2 separate regions of the Homo sapiens genome follow, and region 1 is linked to region 2. Evidence: fine-mapped expression QTL. A gene starts in region 2. The other region holds a variant in brackets. All regions are shown on one strand. Distances are from middle to middle.

Region 1 (4,373 bases), 24 kb after region 2:
CCTCCCTAGTGAGTAGACATTTGTTGAGAGACTCGGCTCATCTGAAGAGTCAAGGTCATCCTCTTGCTTGATGCTGAATGAGCACAACACAGATGCTCACTGAGTGTTGGCTGTTATGGTCCAGTCATTGCCAAGGAACTCAATGGGATCTTCATGCTAGCTCTGGCCTCAGTGCCGCCCTAGAAAGAAGTGGGTCCGGATGGGGAGAGGCCAGGAGAGCTCAAGCAGTGTCTGGAGGACGTTGTAGGGCGGTATCACAGCCTCCAGACCCAGTGCACAGAGGCTGGGTCCCCCAGTCCTTGGTGTGACTTGGTGATCCCCAGCTGGCCTTCAGTGGGATGAAGGCTGAGCAGTGGGGCTTGCCTGGGAACAGGGGCACCAAAGGTAGCCAGGGCTGCAGACAGCAGATTCCTTGCTTGAGTGGCTTGGGGTGCTGGTTGTCAGCCCAGGTCCTGCCAGCTAGGGCCTCTGCCTTGACCTCAGAGGGGAGGAGCAAGCCTTTGAGGGTTCTTACGGAGGCGTGTCTCTGCCGCAGGTGAACGGGAAGGAGCTCTCCAAGCTGTCTCAGGAGCAAACTCTGCAGGCCCTGCGCTCCTCCAAGGAGCCCCTGGTGATCCAGGTGCTGAGACGCAGCCCCCGCCTCCGGGGGGACAGCTCCTGTCACGACCTGCAGCTGGTGGACAGTGGCACTCAGACCGACATCACCTTCGAGCATATCATGGCGCTGGGCAAGCTGCGTCCGCCCACCCCGCCCATGGTCATCCTGGAGCCGTACGTCCTCTCTGAGCTGTGAGTCGCCCTCAGGAGGGCCCCGGGCCCTGCCTCCAGAGAGGACAGGCCACCTGGAGCGGCCATCCGCACGCCACCCTCTCGGGCAGGAAGCAGGCCCCTCGGCCTCCAGAACTGACCGTGGTACCCAAGGGCTCCAAAACCTCCAGGCCTCTAGCCTTGGGCCGGGCTCCAGCAGGCGCCCCGTTGTATCTACCCCCAGGGCCGAGGGAGGACCCTCCTGTCCGGGACGTCGCTGCCGGAAGTGCCAGGGTTGAGGGCCTCAGCTCCTCCTCCTCCATCCTCTCTCCTCTGCCGCCTCACAAGCATCACTCCTTGAATCTTCTTGCATCCCTTGTCTGTCTCATTCCTCTACCTGCTCTGAATTTCCTCCATCTCTTCAGCTTCTTTCTTTGGCCCGACCGGAAGAAGGGCCTTTCATCCAGGCCTGGTGGCTCATGACCGCGTGAGCGCTGCCTCATTCTGCTAATCTTAGCCCGGGCTGCGGGGAGGTAGGCCACAGGGCCATGAGCAGCCAACCTTAGTTTTGGGGCCAGGAGGGCAGCCCCTGGAGGTAGGGTGGGCCCCCCTCTGCTCTGCAGAAGTCCTCCAGGGCCTGGATAACTCCTGGGGGCGTTGCATGAGTGGGGCCAGTGCTGGGCGGGCGGGTGGGCACCCGGAGATTGGAGAAGTTGGTCCCTGCCAGCTGGCGTGGTTGGAGGAGTTCTGGTCTGGGGGACGGGAACGCTAGAGGCATGCGCAGGTCCTCTGCGTGGACGCTGCACACTCAGGTGCGAGAAGTGCCCCCGGTCTTTGCATGGCTGCATGTTGCCCAGGAAGGGGCTCTGCAGGAGGCAACTGGGCCACCCACCCTTGAGAGCACAAGCAGAGCAGGCCTCCGTGCCAGGCACGCTGGGATCGGCCTGCCTGGGAGCTGGGGCTGAGGTGTGAGAGGATGGCCAGCTGGTCTGACCCCCACCTTCTCCTGGGCAGCCCCCCAATCAGCCATGAGTATTATGACCCGGCGGAGTTTATGGAGGGCGGCCCGCAGGAGGCAGACCGCTTGGATGAGCTGGAGTATGAGGTGAGCCGGGTGGCCAGGCCAGGGCCCGCAGCCAGCTGCGGGAGCCGCCCCGACGCCTGTGTGCCTTCCTGCCCAGGCCCAACCCCGTGGCCCTCCTGGCACGCATCTGGCTGAGTCAGGGAGGGTGCGGGTGAGGTTACGTGTTCCGTCCATGTCGGTGAGTCCACGTCCCATGCACGTCTGTCTTCTGTGTCCTGTGCCTGTGTGTGCCTCGTGCATTTCCTGGGAGGGAGACCACTGAGTACGTGCGCCACGTGGGATGGTAAGAGAGACCCTCAAAGCGGGGCCTGGAAACTGAGCTCAGGGGGCTCCAGAGGAAGCTGAGGGGCTGCGGGCTGAGGGGTTGCGGGCTGAGGGGCTGGGCTGTGCTGCCTGCTCCCTCACTCACGCATTTCTGGGGCTTTCTACCTCTGCTTCCTCCCGGACCCCTCGTGGCAGGAGGTGGAGCTGTATAAAAGCAGCCACCGGGACAAGCTGGGCCTGATGGTTTGCTACCGCACGGACGACGAGGAGGACCTGGGCATTTATGTCGGAGAGGTATGCAGACGGGTATGCCCCAGCCCCGAGGCCCATCCACATGGCCTGCCTGTGGCTCAGAGGCTGCCCTTAAGGTCCCAGCTACCAGA[A/G]ACAGGGCATCACAGCTAGGGTGCTGCGTGGTGAGGCGATGATGGTCGACGGCTTCAGCCACTGTCCAGTGAGGTAGTCATCTGCAGAAAGAGGCCTGTGCCTGGGTGGGACAGCAGATGGGCCTGAGAACTAGCAACAGGGTTGCTGTCTAGCCTTCTCCCGAACCCATCTTGGGCAGATGTCTTGTGTATCCCCAGGAGGGGGATGGCCCCTCGCTCCCCTCCCTACTAGTAGCATCCCACTAAAGCCACCCTTCCAGATGGACAATGTCCTACTTCCCACCAATGCCCGGGGCTGACCAAAAGCACAGGCTTCCGTGCAGAAGAGCCTAGGAGTGCAGGGCAGGGGCGGGGAGAGGTGACTACTCCACAGCCTCTGCCTCTGCTTCCTGGGGCTCAGAGCTGGAAGGGGAGCCAGAGAGCCTTCAGCTTGCTTTGGGGGCCCCTGAGGTGAGCCTGCCCCCTTCTACCGAAAGGGCATGTTAGGCACCAAGTCCCCAAGATGCGTGTGTCCTGCAGGTAAATCCCAACAGCATTGCAGCCAAAGACGGCCGGATCCGTGAGGGAGACCGCATCATCCAGGTGAGCACTTGCAGGCTGCAGGCCTGGCCCAAGGCCCCGCTGTGCCCGTCGGCCCAGCCACCTCTCTTTAGCCAGTCCCTAGCTCTCTCCCACTAAGAGCTAACCCTGAGGCCCAGCAGCCTGCCGTGTCCTAAACCCGGGCTGAGTCTCATCTCTCTCCTGCCCACTCACCCCAGTGGCTCCCGTGTGCCTATGGGATCTGCTGGCATCCAGGGCCCCTGCTGCTCTGAAACCTCCTGGCCCCTCTCCCTCTGCCCCACTCCATGCTCTCCTGAGCACACATTTGCTCTTGCAAGAGTCAGGCCGCCCTCTCCCTGGTACCTTCCACTTAGTTACATCCTCCCAGAGCTCAAGCCCCAGCCTAGCCCAGCCGAGCCCAGAGTGCTTGGGCTCCCTGCACCCGCCCAGGGTCCGCCCCAGGGCCAGCCCTAGCATGCTTGTTGATTGTATCCTGCCTGCCTCAGATTAACGGTGTAGACGTCCAGAACCGGGAAGAGGCGGTGGCCATCCTGAGCCAGGAAGAGAACACCAACATCTCCCTGCTGGTGGCCCGACCTGAGAGTCAGGTGTGTATGCCTGGCAGGGCGACCCGGGGCCACGACATCAGGCTTTCTGTCTTGGAAGCTGCTGGCCGTGACTAGGGCACAGATGTGCCAACGACCTGGAGTTGATGGAGGGCGGGTGGGCAGGGGTCTCTCAGGGCCCGTTTCCCCTCCTGGCCTCTGAAGGCTGAGGGGGCTGGGACGCTGCCCCCAGGTTGCTGAGCTTCACCGAAACAAGCCAAGTGCGGGGTCCAGAGCAGACAAGAAGGGTATATGGGGAGGTCCTTGAAGCTGTGGGGACACCAGGGCCTGTCTCCACAGCTGGCGAAAAGGTGGAAGGACAGCGACCGGGATGACTTCCTGGATGACTTTGGCTCTGAGAATGAGGGGGAGCTGCGTGCTCGTAAACTGAAATCACCCCCTGCCCAGCAGGTGAGGAAGGAAAAGGGCGCTGGTGGGGAGGGCGAGGAGGAGAGAACTGGGTGGAAGGCGCTGAGGCTGTGCAGGGTCTCCCAATGCTTGGCAGGGAAATGAACCAGGCCTGAAGCCCCTTCCGATCCTCCTGTGACATCCCGTGACATCCCTGTCCGTGGGACCTAACTGAGCGGTACTTACCTTTCTGCTCTAGCCCGGAAACGAAGAGGAGAAGGGGGCTCCCGATGCCGGCCCAGGCCTGAGCAACAGCCAGGAGCTGGACAGCGGGGTGGGCCGGACTGACGAGAGCACCCGGAACGAAGAGAGCTCTGAGCACGACCTGCTGGGGGACGAACC
Region 2 (4,373 bases):
ATTGAGGCCCAGGCAGTCCAGACCCCCGGTCACCCGGCTCTTTCACACTGGTATGCCCCTTCAGCTCACACCTATGGCCTCATGGGAGGTGGTGATGGGGTGTCCCCATGACTGACTCAGACCCAGGTCCTCGACTGGTCATCTCATGTCACCACTAGGAAAAACACCTGCTGTCACACTGAGGCCCTTTGCAGGGTGGCCCTGAGAGACAGCAGTGAGGGGACATCCTCTAGGGGAGCAAGACACTAGGTTGTCTACTTTGTAGAGGGAGAAATGGCCTGAGATGAAGGTGTCCATGACCCCCGGGCAGTGGAAAATGGCTGGGCTGACTGGTCAGGGACCCGGGTGGAGGAAGATTGGAAGAAGAGACAGGTTTGGCGAAGAGGTACCTACGGGAGTGCTCAGGGAGAGTGTGGGGCCCCGTGCTCGTCTTCGCGCCCATGCCGCTGGGGAGCATGCAGTGTGGAGGGGGCGCGCCAGAAGCTAGCGAACAGAGGGGACCATCTGGTGGAGGTCAGCCAGCTTCTCCCCAGGATGCGATGGACCCACGATGCCAGTGGCCATGGTGGGAGGGCTGGAGGCTCTGTATAAGCCCAACGGCAAGGGCTTCCTCTTACCACGGCTCATCTAGACACTGCCGCTAGTGAATGTTCTTCCATCCACCAGCTGCAGAGACCGATGCTGAGCCCTCAATATGACGCCATTCCTCAAGACTAGCCAGCCATTGGGTGGCAGGTTGCAACCTGCACACCAGCCCTTGTCTCAAGTTCTGCTTTCTGGGAGAAGCCCTGGATAAGAAACTCGCCTCTCTTCTCCACATTCTGGGCAGGCCCGCCATTCTTGATTTCTCTTCTAACGAGGAGCCAGGGAGGAAAGGAAGGGCTCCGATTCAACAGCCCCGTGTGGCTGGGGGTTCCCTCACTTGCCCAAACCTGGAAATGAAGCATGTAGCAATTTCTCCAAGTGATCTCCTGCAGCCGGGGCAGCCTCTGGGAACGCAGACTTCCACCCGCTGCTGCTTTCCAGGCAAAGGCCTTCTCCCTCCAGGCTTGTCCAAGAAGACGGGGAGGTGGTGGGAGAGAAGAGGAAGAGATGGAAGGGCTGTGAAAGCGGGGACCGGGTGAGGGCTGGGGCTGAGGAACAGGTAGGCGGCGGGCCCAGGCTGGCCAGTGCTGTGTGCAGGCCCGGGTCCCAAGGCCTCCGAGGCCACTCTCCCCACGACCCACCCCCTCCCCACGCTTCGCTCATCCTTTTTTCTTTCTCTCTTTCTTTTCTTTCCTCCCTTTCTCTCTTTCTTTCTTGTTTTAAACAAAGGTGTCCGTTTCAAAGACAGCAGGGAATGGCTGAGTTGAAGGAGGGATGCAGTCATTTAAGGCGAAGCCCGAGGAAGGAGCAGAGGCGTGAGGGCTGCTGCGTCCAAGACCGGGGAGAGGGGCTGAAATCGCGGACTCTCTCTGGGGGACCCAGGAGACTGCTCCTCCTGGCAGGACCCCTCTCTCCCAGAGCGGCATCGCGCAGACAACGCGCCTGGTGCCCGCCCCTCAGGACCGGACGCCGGGTGTCGTGGGGTGCCTAGGACCCCCGCCCGCTTCCGTCGAGCGCCCGCCCCCGGCTTCCCGCGCCGGCTCCAGCGCCCCCGCCGCTCCCTCCCGCAGCCGGCCCCGCTCCCCTCCCCGCCCCTCCCGGCGCGCGTGCGCCCCGTGCCCGCGCCCCTCCCCCGCCGCCGTGGGCGCGCTCGCGTGCCCGTCGTCCCGGGCGGGAGCTGGAGACGGCCAGCGGCTGCTGGACGAAGAGCGGGCGCCGGGAGCTCCGAGAGCGCGGCCGGGCGAGGCGGGAGCGCGGGCGCTGGCCTGGCCGCGGGCGGGGGCCGCCGCCGCGCCGCTGCCCCCCTGTCGCGGGCCGGGCCGCGGCGCCGAGCGCGAGGGCCGGGCTCCCGGGGCTGGCGGCCATGGGCAGGAGCCGGAGGCGGCAGCGGCAGCGGCGGGCCCCGCGGGCGGGGAGGCGCGCGGCCCACGGCCCCTGACGGCCCCTGGCGGCCCGGCGCGCCCCCGCGCTCCCTGGGGGGCCGTAGCCTGGCAACGCCCGGCGCGCCCGCCCATCCCCCGCTGCCCTTTTTCTCCTGGCCGGGTGCGAGGGAGCATGCCCGCGCCTGGCCTCGGCCAGCGAAGAGTTAACCTGAGGGGCGAGCCGCTGCCCCCACCTCGGGGGCGTGCCCCCCTCCCCCGCTAGGCGGCCCGCCCCCCGCGCCAGGGTATGGCCCCTGGCCCCGGCCCGGGACCCGAGGTCCCGCGCCCGGGTCAGTGAAAGGCGTCTTCCCGTTCCCGCCCTCCGCCTCCTCTCGCCGGCCAGCAACATGGGATGTAATATGTGCGTGGTCCAGAAACCGGAGGAGCAGTACAAAGTGATGCTGCAGGTAGGGCCGCCGGCGCTGCGGCGGGGGCGCGGCCCTCCGCGGGGAGGAGCGGGCCAGTGGGGAGGCCCGGAGCGGCGGGCGTGGGAGAGCGGGAGGGCTCGAGGAGGACAAGGTAGGGAGCCGTCCGCACCCTCCCATCCTGGGGCTGTTGGGTGTTGGCGCTCCGTGGGAACCAGCCACGGGTGGGGTGGGAAGTTGGGGTTGGCCCGGGTGGGGCGCGCTTCCGTCCCGGGAGGCGCGGTGCGGCGGGCGCGGGATGGAGGTTGCATAGCAACGAGCGCAGTTCCCCGCACACGCTCTCCCCGCAGGACCCAGGGCGGGGGAGGGAGCCAGGCTCCCGCCGTGCGGGGGGCGCCGAATCTAGATCCCGGCGGGCCTGGAGCGTGGGAGTGCGTGGGCGTCCCCGGGCGCGGTCCAAGTCCGTCCGGGGGCTGGGTGCCCACCCCGACACCCACTCCCGCCTGGCCCTGCCCGAACGATGGGCTCCCGGGCCTTAGGCGTCTCGGGTGAGTGGGCGCCGCCGGGATCAGCGGGTTGGGCTCTCTGCGGGTGGCAGTGCCTGGCCGGGCTTTGCGGGGCGTGGACCAGCAGGGCCCCGCGGGGAGGGAAGGAGACGCGGGGCCCGGAGCTCGGACCTGGAGCCCAGCCCCGCGGCCCGGAACGGGGCTTCTTGCCTGTGCGTGGCGTGACTACGTGAGTGCGTTCCTGTGCCCCGTCTCTGTGTGCGCGGAGGCTCCCCCGGCCCCGCATTTGTGTACTTTCTGTGTGCACCCTGCAGACTGTCTAGAGAAATGTCCCGGATGCTGTGGGCTGAGACCTCCTAGGGCTAAGTGGAGGGAGGTCAAGGTCAAGGCACCCAGGAGCAGACAGGGCTCAGACAGGTATGCGTTTAGTGGCCTGGATTCAACTCCCGGGTTTATTGGTCTGGACTGGGAAGGAATCAAGTGCTTTGCAGGAGGGGTGTTGGCTTGGGAGAACGTGGGGGAACCCGTGCAGGGATCGGCGAGAACTCCGGGGCGGGGGCGGGGGCGGGGGAAGGAGGGGCTGGGCACGGGGGAGAATTCCCAGGAATCCGGGGACTGACTTCACGCTGTGAGCCGAGCTCCTCTGGCCACCTGGTGCGGGAGCCGAGGGGCAGGGCGGGGACGCAAATCTTGCCCCACCCTGGCGGAGCTCCTGGTCCTCTCTCCCCGGCCCTTCTCCGGGGGTGCGCGGGGCCCTCGGCTTCTCCCGTTCGCTGTCCTCCGCCTTCTTCCCTCTCAGTTCCCGGCTGCCACTCCTCGTCTCTTGTTCCCGCTGTTTGGAAACCTTGTGTGGCCATTGCCAGCCCCCTAGCGGGATAGGAATGCGACCGAGAGGGCGTCCTGTGGAATCCGTGTTGGATTCCAGGGCTGGGATGGTTGGTTGACGGGGACTCTGGATCCCATCCTCCTGCTTCCTTTTCGGGAGTCATTCCATCAAACGGCAAGCGATTTCTCCAAGCGATTCCTCCGGGGCCGTTTTGACTTTCCTGGAGAAGGATTGGTGTCGCACTTCATTTAAGGCCAACCTCGTGGGGACGTGTGGATAGGGGAGAGCGACCCGAGCTGCACCCCAGGCCTGAAATGAGCCATGGGACGACACCGGTAGCCCTTGGGGCTCCCCACAGCCCTCCGGGAAGGCCTCGGCAGGTCGGGCTGGGCCTGCCTTCAGGGAGGTGAACTTGGGTGGGCCCTCCCTGCTCTGCGCCCTAAGCTCTCCTTCATGGAAGGGACTTGCCCACCCCAAGGAGACCCGCCAGGAGGAGGGCCACTGCCGCATGCGCCCTCTGTGCGCTTTCCTGCTGGGCTCCCTTTGAAACCGTGGGAGTTTGGCTGCAAACTTTCACTTTCTACATTCCTCCTTGGCCCAATCAAAGCCGGGATTTTACGAGGAGAACCATCCTTCACAACTAAGGGAAAACAAGAGGACTGAAAAAAGT

Alleles and levels. Positions count from the first base shown, and alleles are read on the strand shown. Sizes are in standard deviations (SD) of each study's normalised expression.
As copies of G replace A in region 1, the expression in testis of the gene that starts at base 2,108 in region 2 goes up (small effect, 0.20 SD a copy in GTEx).

What was found. PIP is the estimated chance that this variant, and not a neighbour inherited with it, causes the effect. A credible set is the group of variants that fine-mapping cannot tell apart.
Region 1: its variant is the best candidate, but not a certain one, in a credible set for the expression of PDZD4 in testis (GTEx, PIP 0.71).

Annotation. Positions count from the first base shown.
Region 1 is chrX:153,804,758-153,809,130 of GRCh38, reverse strand. PDZD4 (PDZ domain containing 4) reads left to right here. Exons shown (of 8, transcript NM_001303512.2): 2 at 536-789; 3 at 1,762-1,852; 4 at 2,291-2,389; 5 at 2,998-3,060; 6 at 3,525-3,626; 7 at 3,924-4,034; 8 at 4,231-4,373. Among named protein-coding and RNA genes, the nearest start is that of SSR4, 12 kb to the right of the region's middle. The variant A/G (reference allele first, on the strand shown) is at 2,479.
Region 2 is chrX:153,828,279-153,832,651 of GRCh38, reverse strand. PDZD4 (PDZ domain containing 4) reads left to right here and starts at 2,108. Exons shown (of 8, transcript NM_001303512.2): 1 at 2,108-2,413. The coding sequence starts at 2,354.